Linked DNA regions of Homo sapiens. The protein of the gene in region 2 purifies or fractionates together with the protein of the main gene of each other region. This does not show direct contact. Each region holds a gene or a part of one and is shown on either strand. Other genes may lie near its edges.

Evidence for each region.
Region 1: the proteins of POLE2 (region 2) and CYP4F12 purify together in Homo sapiens (affinity purification with mass spectrometry; 2 studies listed by BioGRID and IntAct, with this or other methods). This does not show direct contact.

The regions. Positions count from the first base shown.
Region 1 is NC_000019.10:15,682,210-15,690,373, reverse strand, and holds part of CYP4F12 (cytochrome P450 4F12), read right to left. Parts: intron 7,986-8,164; coding exon 7,864-7,985; intron 6,882-7,863; coding exon 6,611-6,881; intron 5,559-6,610; coding exon 5,492-5,558; intron 5,307-5,491; coding exon 5,177-5,306; intron 1-5,176. UniProt on the Homo sapiens protein: A cytochrome P450 monooxygenase involved in the metabolism of endogenous polyunsaturated fatty acids (PUFAs).
Region 2 is NC_000014.9:49,677,345-49,685,508, forward strand, and holds part of POLE2 (DNA polymerase epsilon subunit 2), read right to left. Parts: intron 6,350-8,164; coding exon 6,249-6,349; intron 2,457-6,248; coding exon 2,381-2,456; coding exon of another isoform or gene 2,377-2,380; intron 1,166-2,376; exon of another isoform or gene 964-1,165; intron 637-963; exon of another isoform or gene 1-636. UniProt on the Homo sapiens protein: Accessory component of the DNA polymerase epsilon complex. Participates in DNA repair and in chromosomal DNA replication.

The DNA.
Region 1 (8,164 bases), on a different chromosome or scaffold from region 2:
CAAAATTGCTAAGAGAGCAAATTTCAAATATTCTCACCACAAAAATGATGAGTATATGAGATGACGGGTATGTTTATTAAATTGACTTAATCATTCCACGTTGTATACATATATCATAATATCACATTGCACCCCATAAACATATATAATTAAAATTTGCCAATTAAAAATAAAAACGAACTAATTTTCCAAAACTCATATTTTTAGAAAAAGAAAAGCTCCCAAAGATATATTGTTAATGTGCAGATCTGTCTCTTCTTTACTTCCTTTTATTTCAATAGCATTTGGGATATAAGTGGTTTGGTTACATGGATGATTTCTATAGTGGTGAATTCTGAGGTTTTAGTGCACCCATCACCCATGCAGTGTATACTGTCCCCAATATGCAGTCTTTTCTCCCTTACCCGGCTCCCAACCTTGCTCTCCGAGTCTCCAAAGCTCATTATATCACTCTGTATGTATTTGTGTCCTCACAGCTTAGCTCCCACTTATAGGTGAAAATATATGGTATTTGGTTTTCTATTCTTGAGTTACTTCACTTAGAATAATGGCCTCCAGCTCCATCCAAGTTGCGGCAAAAGACATTATTTCATTCCTTTTTATGACTGAGTAGTATTCCATTGTGTATATATGCCACATTTTCTTTATCCACTCATTGGTCAATGGGCAGTTAGGTTGGTTCCGTACCTTTACAATTGTGAATTGTGCTACTATAAGCATGCATGTGCATGTGTCTTTTTCATATAATCACTTTTCCTTTGGGTGGATACCTAGTAGTGAGATTGCTGGATGGAATGGTAGATTTACTTTTAGTTCGCTAAGGAATATCCTTATCGTTTTCCACAGAGGTTATGTTAATTTTCATAGCAGTGTATGAGCATTCACTTTTCAATACATCCACAACATACATCTATTGTTTTTTGACTTTTTAATTATGGCCATTCTTGTAGAAACAAGATGGTATCTCATTGTGGTTTTAATTTGCATATCCCTGATGATTAGTGATGTTGAGCATTTTTTCATATGTTTCGTGGCTGTTTGTGTATCTTCTTTTGAGAATTATCTGTTCATGCCCTTTGCCCACTTTTTGATGGAACTAATTGTTTGTTTGTTTTTTTTCCTTGCTGAGTTGTTTGAGTTCCTTGTAGATTCTGGATACTAGCCCTTTGTCAGATGCATAGTTTGCAAATATTTTCCCCCACTCTGTAGGTTGTCTGTTAAGTCGGCTATTATTATTATTATTATTTTGTTGTGCAGAAGCTTTTTAGTTTAATTAAGTTCCACTGATTTATTTTTGGTTTTGTTGCATTTGCTTTTGTGGTCTTGGTCACGAATTCTTTGCCTAGGCCAATGTCCAAAAGAGTTTTTCCAAGGTTATCTTATAAAATTGTTATGGTTTCTGTCTTAGATTTAAGCCTTTGATTTTTGTACAAGGTGAGAGATGGGGATGCAGTTTCATTTTTCTACATGTGACTGTCCAGTTTTCCCAGCACCATTTATTGAATAGGGTGTCTTTCCCCAATTTATGTTTTTGTATGCTTTGTCAAAGATCAGTTGGCTGTAAGTATTTGGCTTTATTTCTGGGTCCTCCTTTCTGTTCCATTCATCTAAATGCCTACTTTTATACCAGTACCATGCTGTTTTGGTAATTGTAGCCTTGTAATGTAATTTGAAGTCCGGTAATGTGATGCCTCCAAATTTTTTCTTTTTGCTTGGTATTGCTTTGACTACACAGGCTCTGTTTTGGTTCCATATGAATTTTAGAATTGCTTTTCCCAGTTGTGTGAAAAATGATGAAGGTATTTTCATAGGCATTGCGTTAAATCTGTAGATTGCTTTGCACTATGATCATTTTCACAATATTGATTCTTCCAATCCATGAACATGGGATGTGTTTTCATTGGTTTGTGTCATCTATGGTTTTGTCCAGCACTGTTTTGTAGTTCTCCTTGTAGAGAGCTTTAACCTCCTTGGTTAAGTATATTCCTAGGTATTTTTTTTTTTTTGCAACTGTTTTTTTGTTTGTTTGTTTTGCCCTGTGAGAGTCAGAGGGTGGTTCTTAGGTCACTGGGGTAATGATCCAGAGGTGAGTATAACTGCCTCTGCCTCACAGAAGAGTTTGACAAGGGAGTGGAGAGTAGCAGGTGGCAGTAAGCCTCATCTAGCTCCCATGCAGTTGGCACAAGGTGGGTCTCACACATGCAGTGTTCCACTCATAGCACTGGATTTAGATCCAGGCAGTCTGTGCACAGAACTCAGCCCTGCCCCAGGCCATAAGCTTTTCCCACAGAAATAGCAATGCTTTCAGGCCATGTCCTTTTTTGTCCCTGTCCAAGGCCAGGCACCCAGCTTCTGAACTCCTGTCTGCAGCACACTTCCTGCTTGCCTCCCGGGTTCTGGTCAAGGGAGTTCATCCCCACTCGAGGTTATATCAAGAAATTCATTTGGGCATTTCGTTCAACCTGTGACCTCACCTGAGCTAGTTGTCTGACTTCCCCAAGGTCCCCTGTGAGATACAATAAGGAATGGCTTCCCTCAGTCCATGCTGGAGATTGTGAATGCCTGCAAGGGACTTCCTGCTGCTGCTTCTACTTTTATATTTCTTACCACTCCCTAAATCAGTTCAAGCCCTGGATAGAGTTAAGGCCTTCTCCTGTGGTCTGGATTTTCAGATTCCCCAGTGAAGATGTGTACCTAGGAAGCAGTCTCTCCCCCTCTTACTCTGAGGATTCACAGTTTTTCACCTGTCTCACAGAGTAGAATGCAGCCTGTAGCTTCTTTTGAAGGGTTTGTGGATTCTTCTGGTTTTCCTGTTAAGTCCCTGTGTTGTTTCTTGGGAAAAGAAAGCTTACACTGTGAATCTCTACACACTATTCTGTCCTTCCACATGGGAGAGGCACACTGACATTGCCTCCAACCCACCATCTTGGGAAAAAGTACTGTGTCTATTTTATACACTCTTATTTGTATAGAAGAAGTCTGTGTTCTTATAAAGTGGGCATCAAGATAGCCATCTTCTGGAGGGACACACAAAACCATTGATGGTAGAAACTACTAGGGTGACAGTTAAGAAGGAAGCTCTTTTTTTTTTTTTTTTGAGAAAGAGTCTCACTCTGTTGCCCAGGCTGGAGTGCAATGGTGCCATCTCAGCTCACTGCAAGCTCCGCCACCCGGGTTCACGCCATTCTCCTGCCTCAGCCTCCAGAGTAGCTGGGACTACAGGCACCTGCCATCACGCCCGGCTAATTTTTTATACTTTTAGTAGAGACGGGGTTTCACCGTGTTAGCCAGGATGGTCTCGATCTCCTGACCTCGTGATCCGCCCGCCTCGGCCTTCCAAAGTGCTGGGATTACAGGCATGAGGAAAGCTCATTTTTATAAATGTTTTAGACACTTTTTTTTGTTTACAAAGTGCACAGTATTACTTGATATCTTGGTTTTTAAAAGCATAAAAAGTGTTGCCACCTTTTAGGACTGCTGTGCTGAGCAAAGGCTTGGACGGGAGGACACGGCCTCCAAAACACATGTCCAGTCCATTGCCTCCTCTCCATCCCCAGCCCCTGCCCTGGCTCAGGTCCCAGAATGTCTTCACTGGGACTTCATTCTACAGCTGGTCCTCTCTCCACAGTAGCTCTGAAAAGATCTTTCTGGTGCCCAGATATGACCTGCCCCTCCCCTGCTCAACCACTTGTTATGGCTTCCCATTGCCTTTGGGTTAAAATGGAAGCCATTACCATTTTCCCATATTTTCCACAGCCAGACTCTGCTTTCACTACCATAGTTATTATCTCATCACAACTCAGTTCCTTTCTCTCTCATTCTCTCTCTGTCTCCTTCTGTCTTCCCTCCTCTCTTTATCTTGCTCTCCCTCACTTTTCCTCCCTCTTACTTCTCCCTCCCTTTATAACCATCTCCTTCCCTGACACACAAACCTCTCTTTCCCTCTTCTCCCTCTCTCCTGCTCCCTCTTTTTGCATTTTTGCCCAGACTTTCTTTTTGACCTAGGGCACTACTGCATCCAAACACCTACTGATCACCATTCAGGGTTTCAGTTGAGGCACTTTATTATTTTGGTTTTTTACTTTTTTAGAAATGGGTTCTTTCTATATTGCCCAGGTTGATCTTAAACCTGACCTCAAGTGATTATCCCACTTCAGCCTCCTCGGTACTTGGTATCACAAGCGACAGCCACCAGATCTGGCTTGAAACACTTTCTATCACACTTTCTGTACTCCCAGCCATGCTTCTCTTGCTCTCAACTCCATCCTTGCCTATGTGGACTGGGAATGTCTTGTGGGGGACTGTTCCTACTAGGCTGGGAGTACCTGGAAAACACATCCATAGGCAGGGTTCTTTCCAGGTCTCCAGAGCACAGAAAGGTGTGGGAACAGAACTGGCAATGGAAAGGCATGTGGAAGAGTTTGCTGAATGAAGACTGAATGGATGAACGATGCAGGTGTTCTAGACAAAAGATAGATGACTTTTACCCCCAGGTCTCCCTTAGGACTCCCTGGACTGGACCGGAGGGTAGGAATTAGGGAACAGAAGAGTAAACATTCAGGAAGTAAAGATGTTTGAAAAAAATATGATAATTCAGAGTAAACAAGAAAGGAGTGAAGGGAAAATTCATTGACTGAACATGTCTAGATGTCATCGTCTGCCTTCATATATTGTCCTTAGTTCTCTCAGCGGGCTAGGACTCTCTGTCCCAAAAGTCTGAAAACTTTCCCCTGCTAGCCAGGTTGGATACCAAGTTCTGCCTCTGTGCTCTGCTCCTAGTACTACTAAGCAATAATGGAAGAATTGACAAAAACAACTTCTCCCTCCCCACCTGAGCAAACATTCAAGAAGTGAGGATTTTCGAAAAAACTGATATTTCTGGGAGAACAGAAACAGAGTGGAGGGGAAGTTCATTTGCTGAACATGTGCAAAGTAGCATTATCTGTCCTCACACATTGTCACCAATTCTCTTAGCAGCCCGGGTCTTTCGGTCCTAAAGGCCTGCAACTTTTCCCCTGACAGCCAGGCTTGGTATCAAGCCCTGCCTGTGGTCCTCTGCTTTTATACCCACTAAGCAATAGTGGAAGAATCCACAAAACAACTCCTCCACCCCTCCTCACTTGGGGAGCAGAACCAATGATGGGCTCAGGAACAGGCCAGAAGAACTTGCACTCACCATTCAATCTCTTTAGGATCGCGGTCCTTCAGAAGCTCTTGCACCTCCTGTCGGCAGCGCTCCTGGTATTCTGGGTGCCTCGCAAGGTTGTACAGGACCCAGGAGAGGCCACTGGCCGTGGTGTCATGGCCTGAGGAGCAGCCAGGTAAGCTTGGCTTCAGCACCGGAGGGTGGACAGCGCCCAGATATTGAGGCCCTCAGGAGGATGGAGGGAGGGGGAAGATGGGCAGAATGGAGTGATCCAGGGTCCACCCACCCGGATCCTGAGATGGAGGGACCTCTGTCTCCACTGTAGTCCCACACTGGGACCCTCACCTCCAAACATGAAGGTGTCAGCCTCTGCTCTTATATCCTCATCTGACAATGCCTTCCCATCTTCATCCTGAAGAGAAAGCAAGACACACACACACACACACACACACACACACACACACACACACAAATTATACTATCTCTGAGACTCCGGAGTCTAACCTGAGATAATCTCTGAAGCTCTGATCTTCCAGAAACTCAAATGCACTCTGCACGTCTAGATCTCTCTTGTTCACCATCACCAAAGCCCCAACTCCAAGGGCTTCCCCCAGATCCTTTGCCTCCTCTTTGGACCCTGGTGACAGGAATCAATGGTTCTCGAATATTTTCATTTTTCTGCATAATACAGACTTTCAGAGAAAAAGATACTGGCAACCTGGGGTACAGGATATTTGAATGGCAATTTGCCTTGGAGGTTAGAAATTATGTATTGCTCCAAAAATATTTGCTGACATTCTAGAGTGGTAAACCCAGAGAATCTTATCTTTCCAGAAGATATTTGGGTTATAAAACTCTAGAAATTGCCATCTCACAGGAGAGGGGTAGTTTATACGCCAGAACAAAGCATTCTCTCTCTCTCTCTTTCTCTGTCTCTAACTTTCACCCTGTAATAAAGAAGGAGCATATGAGCTAGCTGTCCTATATAAGCTATAATACTCATAATGTGGGGGCCCCTCTCCTTGGTGCAAATTCTTGTGCATTTACAGGTAAAAACATTGTGTTGCCCTAGGAATGGGGAGCCAGCACTACCATCCTACTCCACCTGCTGTTACTGCTGTAAATAATTAATGGGCTGCTGTGATCCAGGGGTTTGGTGCATCTTTTATCATAGATACAGACATAGACAAAGACATAGACATATAGATACACATAAAAATGTGAAAGACTAACACACTAACTTATAAGTTGAATAAAATATCATGCTCCTCACAGTTTCAGAATTAGCAGTGCCCTGTGGGCTGCATGCAATAAAGTCATCTCTAAAACCTATCTGTGACCTTCCCTTTCTCAAGCATCTTCCATGGCTCCCAGTGCCCTTTGGATCAAAACCAATTTATTTCACCTGACATTTGACATGAAGCTCTATTCTCTCACCTAAATTCAGATCATAGAGAAACCTACCTTGCTCAGCAGAAGCACATCAATGAAATCCAAAGTCTTGGACTTGGCTTTGTCTTTGAAAAAATCATCAATACCCTGAGTGGGGAGGGTGCGACGCCGCTCCCGGATGACAGCGTCTGTGAAGTCATGCACCAGGCGGCAGGCCCTGTGGAAGCGCCGCCCGTCATGGGAGAGGTAATACAGAAAGTCCATGTGCTGGAGGATATGCTGGCTTCTTTTCTCTACAAGGGCACTGAGCTCCAAGATGGTGGCAATATATTCACTGGGCCTCCTGCAGAGCAAGGGCAGAAAGGGAGGCAACAATGTAACGTATGCAAAGCCCCAGGAACACCTCCCACCAGCAGCCAGGAGCTACCTCCCATCAGGAAACTGAGTATCTAGAAATAGATGGTCCTAGAGATACATGGTGGGTATCAGTCATGAGACTGACTCTCTAGACTGTCTTCTCTCCCTGCATCCTATCTCTGAGAGAGCTGTCTCCATGCACCTAGGCACCTAGAGTATAGCTTGGACACCATGCTTCTCTCCTCTGTCTCCCATCCAGTATGCAGTACTGATCATTTTCCTTACCAAAACTGTCCACACAACTCAGACTTCATCCTCTTCCAGTTCAGCCCTGCTCCAGCCCCCAGCATAACCAACTCTCTCTCTCTTTCTCTCTCTCTCTCTCTGTCTCTCTGTCTCTCTCTCTCTCCCTCTCTCTTTCACCCTGTAAGAAAGAAGAAGCAGCTGGGCACAGTGGCTCATGCCTGTAATCCCAACATTTTCTGAGGCCAAAGAGGGCACATCACCTGAGGTCAGGAATTTGAGACCAGCCTGGACAACATGGTGAACCCCCTCTCTACTGAAAATACAGAAATTAGCTGGGCGTGGTGGTGGGCTATCAGTTTCCCACACAGCTCAGCTCTTATCACATCCATCATCAGCTGAAACTACAAAAGGTCTCTGGAAATGTCTTGATAAACTTCATACCACTTTTCCTGATTTTCAGTGCCCTTAATATCTAGCCCCTACTTCCACAACCTCATTTCTACTGTCTCTTGCACATGCTTGGCTCATCCTAACCTTCTTGCTTTTACACACATATTTCTACCTGGAAAGACAGCACTTTCTCCTCTTCCTCGACCTTCAAAGCACAGCTATGATACAAATCCTCCCGAAAGGTACTTCTGGTTACTTTGCTCATTCCTCCCTCCCCAACTTTCTCCCTTTGGTCCATGGATTCATATCCCAGGCCCTAGGAAGGAACTCACTCCTGACAATGGCTGTCAAAGCTGAAGATGCATTTCTGTAGACTGTCCAAGGTCATGAGGCTGATGTGCTCAAACATGTCCAGACGACTGCTGCCCTCTGAGGCCAGGTGCTGCCACTTGTCCTGGCCAGAGAAGGGAAGAGAGCTAGAGCTGGGCCCTGCCTCCTTTGTGCCCCTCCCCAGTCCCAAACATCAGGATGGACTCCCCCACAACCAGCCTCCTGGTCCTCTGCCCCAGGAACCCATTGCCAGCGAGGACCAGACTGGGATGCGAGCAGAAACTGTTAGTATAGGAGATGAAG
Region 2 (8,164 bases):
GGATCAAATCCTTCAGCTCCTGCTGGGTATCTACAGCGGCTTGAGGCCATTCATGCCAAGGGTTAGGCCCACAGGGACCTGAAGCCCACCACTATCTTGCTTGGAGACGAGGGGCAGCCAGTTTTAATACACTTGGATGCCATGAATCAAGCATGCCTCACATGAAGGGCTCCCACCAGGCCCTGACCCTGCCGGACTAGGCGACCCAGCAGTGCACCATCTCCTACTGAGCCCTAGAGCTCTTCCCTGAGCAGTCACTGTGTCATTGATGAACAGACTGATGTCTGGTCCCTGGGCTGTGTGATATATGCCACAATGTTTGGGGAAGGCCCTTACGAAATGGTGTTCAAGAAACGTGACAGTGTGGCCCTTGCTGTGCAGAACCAACTCAGCATCCCACAAAGCCCCACGCATTCTTCAGGAGTGTGGCAGCTCCTGGCCTCAATGATGACTGTGGACCTGCAGCAGCACCCTCACAATGCTTGCCTCCTCAGTCAGCTGGAGGTACTGCAGCCCCCAGCTCCTGGCCAGCACACTGCCCAAATCTGAACAAAGCAGTGGCCATATTGAGAAGGTGGCGCCTTGTGCCTTGGAAAGAGGCTCCCATCACTCACTGGAATCTCTACCCATTCTTTCTTTATTTTATTTTATTTATTTTATTTTTTTTTTTTTGAGAGACAAGTCTCATTCTGTTGTCCAGGCTGGAGCAGAGTGGCACGATCTTGGCTCACTGCAACCTCCGCCTCCCGGGTTCAAGCGATTCTCCTGCCTCAGCTTCCCAAATAGCTGGGACTACAGGCATGCACCACCATGCCCAGCTAATTTTTGTATTTTTTAGTAGAGACGGGGTTTTGCTGTATGTTGGCCAGGCTGGTCTCGAACTCCTGACCTCAGGTGATCTGCCCACCTCGGCCTCCCAAAGTGCTGGGATTACGGGCATGAGCCACTGCGCCCAGCCTGCTTTTCTGCTTTCTTACCCCCAAGAGCAACACCTGGACAAGGGGCTTTACTGAGTGGGGGTGGAATAGGGGTTGGGAAAAGGAAAACTGATGCGATATGGTACATGGCTCTGTGCAGGACTGTTGAGCTCATATTACGTTCTGCCTCCAAATCTGGGAGCAAGAGAATGTATAAACAGAAGAATAAAGTGAATGCAGATTGGTGTGGGGGAAAATAAGTAAATAAATAAATAACAGGTAACTTTAGGGTAAACAACGAGTAACGTCTATTTTAGGATAATAATCAAACTTCAGTACAATCATTTTGAATTTCTATTGATGGCTTTAGGAACATTCATTATACTCCAGTATTTATTTTATGTATTTTTTTTGAGACAGAGTCTCACTCTGTCGCCCAGACTAGAGTGCAGTGGTATGATCTCAGCTCACTGTAACCACCACCTCGCAGGCTCAAGCAATTCTCCTGTCTCAGCCTCCCAAGTAGCTGGGATTACAGGTGCGCCCCACTACCGCCCAGCTAATTTTTGTATTTTTAGTAGAGATGGGTTTCACCATGTTGGCCAGGCTGGTCTTGAACTCCTGACCTCAAGTGATCCAGCCACCTTGGCCTCCCAAAGTGCTGGGATTACAGGCATAAGCCACTGCATCTGGTCACACTATAGTATTTTAAATGAGTTTGCAAGGGTAAAATTAAAAATCCTCAATTTCTCTATTTTTTTTTTAGCAGTTATAAGTTCTGACAGGGAGAAGATTATAACTTCTGACTAAAATAAAGATAATGACTCCTTTCAATCATCTCCATTGCCCCAAATAGGAAAGAAGTGGCAATGTTAAAACTGTCTCTCAGCCCATTTTCCCCAGTGTTTTCCTTCCAGTTAAATGCCATCAATTTGTATAGAAGTATCATATCAAGAGGAAAGAGGGATATTCAGAGAAATAAAACCCAGAAGAATTACTGCCATATAAATTCTTAAACCTAAAAACATGACATAGTGGAGTCACAAAACTGAGGTCCTACCCTCATTTGCCATTCACCATGTGACCAAGTAAAGTTGCTGAACTTCTCTGGACATGGTACTTTCCTAAGAGCAAAGTAAATTATACTTCTGAATATTCATTTCAATTCAACTCATTTGTAGCATACAGAATAAAAAGTCAGATCAACCGGTTGGGTAGGCAGCAAAAGTTAGTAATGAATGGTACAAGCAACACTGTAACCTCAAATCCCAGGAAAAACCAGTAAAGATGAGTCATTTAATAATGAGGTTTGCAAAGAAAGCCATTATTTAAAAAGACACACAGAAATAACAACAGTAATCACTGTAGAAACGTTGATCACTAATAATTTTCCAAGACAATAATTAAAAATAAGTGCTCAATAACACCTCCAAGGAGGAAAAAAGTTAACTGTACCCACATACATAGTTTCATCAACAGACTGACTGCATTCCTGGACTGCTGCTTCCACCACAGATCGTTCAATCATGTTTGATGACACTGAAAAGAGAATTTCAAAGTCAAAATTTAAAAACAAAAAAAAAAATAGTTCTTTCCACAGACAGCTCTTTTCCCAAAAATAATTTGCAAATATTAATACTGAGATTCTCATTATACAGTTTTTGGAGAAAAAAAGTGTTAGGTCAGAACAATAACAAAAGCCTTATCTCAAATACCTTCATTTTCCACACTCAAAGTTACAATACCTTAATATACAGTCAAATGCCTTAATTTTCTAAACCCTGTTTAGTTATAAGAACATTTCTGAGCTAGGGTCGGTGGCTCACACCTATAATCCTAACACTTTGGGAGGCCAAGGCAGGAGGATGGCTCGAGCCCAGGAGTTTGAGACCAGCCCAGACAACGTGGTGAAACCCCTTCTCTACAAAAAATATAAAACTTAGCTGGGGGTGGTGGCACATGCCTGTAGTCCCAGATACTCAGGAGGCCAAGATGGGAGGATCACCTGAGCCCAGGGAGGTGGAGGCTGCAGTGAGCTGTGATCATGCCACTGGCACTCCAGCCTGGGCCACACAGAGTGAGATACTATCTCAAAAAAAAAAAAAATTCTCTAAGCTCCCAGTTTTAATAAGGTTACATTAGTATAACTTTATCATCATAACTGCTCAGTTTCAATGAGCATGATAGTAACAATAGCAGCTACCACTTATTAAGCATTGAGTAAATGTGTGGCACCATCCTCAGTACTTTATTTACAAGTATTATTCCACTGGGTAGATGTCCTGTAAGACTGATGTTAAGATGCCCATATCTTATAGATAGGGAAAATACAACTTTAAGAGGTTGAAAATTTTGCCCAAAAACTAGAAGAGATAGAGAGCAACAAAAACCCAGGACTGATTCCAGTGGGGGCTCTTTTAATCACTTTGATATGTTGTCAAGCAAAATACCATGTGCCATCTTAAATCAATGTACACAGGGACAAGTATCATTTTCTTTTTTTTTTTTTTGAGACGGAGTCTCGCTCTGTCAGCTAATTTTTTGTATTTTTAGTAGAGACGGGGTTTCACTGTGTTAGCCAGGATGGTCTCGATCTCCTGACCTCGTGATCCGCCCGCCTCAGCCTCCCAAAATGCTGCGATTACAGGCGTGAGACAAGTATCAGTTTCTAAATGTTCAACTGTAAAGGAATTTTTTAAGCAAAGGTATATGTAAAATTCTGCCTTTAGGAATGAAAATGAGATATAATAACCATTTATCCTGTATCACGGAGTATGTTTCTTCCTATATAATTGAAGTGACTAGCATCTATATAACATTAAGAGTGAACTCGGCACTTCTCAGCCTTTTATGCTAAGATAAAGTGGACAGTGAGCCATACCCACTTCTATCCTCAGGGTGCTATAAATATCAGACTTTTTTTCCAAGGGGAAGAGCATTTCTTCTTTCCAGTCCCATGCTTGTGGTATTAAGTATTTAACAAAAAGGTCCCTGAATCCCTATGGCAGTGTGGCAGTGGCAAGAGGAAACATGCTGATACAGTTTTACTGACAGGTTGAATAGAGAGGTGTCTCAGAAAACTCCCCGAAGTATATGGCTGAAATGGACTGCAAATCATAAAAAACTGGAACAGAGGTTTAGTTCATGTATTGGTGGCCCCATTCTAGCTTCTTTGGGCATGTTTCAACAGATGTGACTTTCCAAAAAAGAACATGAAGAAAGAGAGGAGGGGCCAGGTGTGGTGGCTCACGCCCGTAATCCCAGCACTTTGGGAGGCCAAGGTGGGTGGATTACCTGAGGTCAGGAGTTCAACACCAGCCTGACCAATATGGTGAAACCCTGTCTCTACCAAAAATATAAAAATTAGCCTGGTGTGGTGGCACGCACCTGTAGTCCCAGCTACTCAGGAGGCTGGGACAGAAGAATCGCTTGAACCCGGGAGGCAGAGGCTGCAGTGAACCAAGATGGCGCCATTGCAGTGAACCGAGATGGCGCCATTGCAGTGAACCGAGATGGCGCCATTGCACTCCAGCCTAGGCAACAGAGTGAGACTCTGTCCCGCTCTCACCAAAAAAAAAAAAAAAAAAGGGAGAGGAGGGAAGCAGTGTGTAGAAAGCAAATGCCTTGAAGGAGTTCCCAAACCTCTACCTTCCTGGGTCACCTTATGTTTCATAACTTTGGTATACTCAAGAAAAAAATGACCATCTTTTATAGAATGTGCTTTTCTTGAAATCCACTTATTCTTTTTTTTTTTTTTTTTTGAGACGGAATCTCACTCTGTCACCCAGTCTGGAGTGCAGTGGCATAATCTCAGCTCACTGCAACCTCTGCCTCCCGGGTTCAAGCGATTCTCCTGCCTCAGCCTCCCAAGGAGCTGGGATTACAGGCGCCTGCCACCATGCCTGGCTAATTTTTGTATATTTAGTAGAGACAGGGTTTGCCATGTTGTCCAGGCTGACCTTGAACTCCTGAACTCAGGCGTTCCCACCAGCCTCGGCCTCCCAAAGTGCTGGGATTACAGGTGTTAGCCACCATGCCTGGCCCCACTTATTCTTATCACAAGCGTTATATAATTTTGTATCAATGTCTATTTTCACCAGGTACAATGGCTCACGCCTGTAATCCCAGCACTTTGGGAGGCCGAGGTGGGCGATCACCTGAAGTTGGCGGTTCGAGACCAGCCTGGCCAACATGGTGAAACCTCGTCTCCACTAAAAATACAAAAATTAGCCAGGCATGGTGGCGCACACCTGTAATCCCAGCTACTCGGGAGGCTGAGGCAGGAGAATCATTTGAACCCAGGAGGCAGAGGATGCAGTGAGCCGAAATAGCACCACTGCATTCCAGCCTGGGCGACAGTGCAAGACTCCTTCTCAGGGAAAAAAAAAAAAAAAAAAAAAAAAAAGTCTATTTTCTACAGTTTGCTTTCAGTAAAATGCCTTCCAACTCTGTTTAGTGTATTCATTATCAGTGCATTAGTAGAATTGCTTTTTATTGAAAAGTTACTGTCTCTGCCCTTTAACTTAGACTTACAAAATTAAGTTAAAATGACTAGCCATTCTATTAAAAAAAAAAAATCCCTGAAGAAATCAAGAAGAGATGTCAGCTCTGTTTACTTTACTCTTCTTTTTTTCCTCCCAAACATTTAGGAGTTAATGACTTAAATAAGACATGGTAATAGCCACTAGGAGAGACAAAGTGACCATAAAGGACCAGATCAAAATCAGAAGCCAAGTGCAGGAAACATGGTGGTGACACCTCCACTGGGGGAAAGGAACTATAAAAGGGCCCTTGGGGATCATCCTGAGGTTCCAACTAAACTAAGGGTTTGGATGTCATCAACAGTTAAAATAAAAAAGGCCGGGTGTGGTGGCTCCCGCCTGTAATCCTAGCACTTTGGGAGGCCGAGGCAGGTGGACTGCGTGAGCCCAGGAGTTTGAGACCAGGCTGAGCAACACAGTGAAACCCCATCTCTACTAAAATACAAAAAATTAGCCTGACATGGAGGTGTGTGCCTGTAATCCCACCTACTCGTGAGGCTGAGACAAGAAAATTGCTTGAACCCGGGAGGTGGGGGTTGCAGTGAGCCAAGATAGCGCCATTGCACTCCAGCCTGGGCAACAGAGCGAGACTCCATCCCAAAAAAGAAAGAAAAAAAAATTAAAATAAACTAAAGGTATTACCCCTTGGGAAGAAATGCTACCATGCATACATCTTATAACACTGGGACATCTTAATAGTGAAGCCTCAACTTCAATTTAAATCTATACATCTAACTGAAGATGCAGAACTATATTAACAATTTAGGAGTTATCAGAAAATATTACTTACAGGGTTGCTTCTCAACTGCATTAATTATCTTTTCCAGTTTATCTTCAAGCTCTAATTCACTGATAGACTGAAGAGCTTCTGTGAGGTACTTAATAGCTTCACTAAGAAAAGGAAAGGAAAAATGAGGCAGGTCATTAGTAATTAAAGGCTAAAAGTTTTCTGCCAAAAAGCAGCAAATACTCATCAATCTGGCACTGAAAGGAAGAACCACTAACTGCTCTCTTCAAGTAGCACTTTATCTTTCCTGTGCTTTCTGAACAAAATCATCCTCCTATGCCTTGCTAACATAAAGCCTCAAATCACATCCTTCCTCTAAGAAGGCTTCCTAGACCAGCTCTACCTGCTGCAATCTCCCCTTTCTTCTGAAATTGTTAAAAATCACATTTACATATACCTTAGATCTGATATATTACATTAGCCTTTTATTACTTACTACCCTACATTTAAGGCAAGAGTCCATCTGTTTCAATGTCAAGCACCATATCCTGAACATAAGACACTCATATATTTAATTTGATAATGCACTTGTTCAAAGTAAATTCCAATAATCACTGTTTTCAATTGTAAAATAAGAAAAAAAATAGGCTTGGCTGTGCGCGGTGGCTCACGCCTGTAATCCCAGCATTTTGGGAGGCCGAGGCGGGCGGATCATGAGGTCAGGAGATCAAGACCATTCTGGCTAACACACGATGAAACCCCGTCTCTACTAAAAACACAAAAAATTTAGCCGGGCATGGTGGCGGGCGCCTGTAGTCCCAGATACTCGGGAGACTGAGGCAGGAGAATGGCGTGAACCCGGGAGGCAGAGCTTGCAGTAAGCCGAGATCGCGCCACTGCACTCCAGCCTGGGCGAGAGAGCGAGACTCCGTCTCAAAAAAAAAAAAGGCTTTAAAAAACTATGACATTTGAATATAATCATAGAAGCAACACTCATTAAAATCACATGAATTTGTGTTATACGAAAGGAGAGGTTGGCACTCCACTTGACAAAGATGGAAGAGGCCCTCGGGCCTGACAATACACATATGGTAAGGCACTGCCACCTGCTTCATGGAGTCTGACCATCATTAAAAAAAAAAAAAAAAAAAAAAAATCATGGCTGGGCACGCGGTGGCTCACGCCTGTAATCCCAGCACTTTGGGAGGCCAAGACGGGCAGATCACGAGGTCAGGAGATCGAAACCATCCTGGCTACCACGGTGAAACACCATCTCTACTAAAAATACAAAAACAAAATTAGCCAGGCATGGTGGCGGGCGCCGGTAGTCCCAGCTACTTGGGAGGCTGAGGAGGGAGAACGGAGTGAACCTGAGAGGCGGAGCTTGCAGTGAGCGGAGATCGGGCCACTACACTCCAGCCTGGGCAACAGAGAAACTCCATCTCAAAAAAAATAAATAAATAAAATAAAATCACATTAATTCCTTACCTAAATCCCAACAATGATCAGAATGAACATGATTAACTAGTTACATGCCACTACATGCCATTCTGTATTTGTAGCACACTTTATACCTCACATCAATATTATTGCTGATTACAATATTAAACAATTAGCTAATTACATGCCATTCTGTATTTGTAGCACACAATTTAACATTTCACATATTATTGTTATAGCCATAACACTAATTGTTCTATATATTGGGTTGCTTTATTAGTTGTTTTGTGTGTAGGTGTTGCATCTCTCAAATTTATTATAGATAACTGAGAACTGAATTATAGATAACTTTAAAACTGTAACTTAGAACTCTGTGCCATCCTTCCACAGAGTTCTAAATACACTTGAAGGTGGTCCATAAATATTTGACCACTGAGTCCCTAAAATCATATACATTTTGGTTGCATCTTGGGACAGTTCTTAGCATAGACCAAAGCCTGTAAAGCCATACAGAATCTTGCCCCTGCCAAATCCCATTA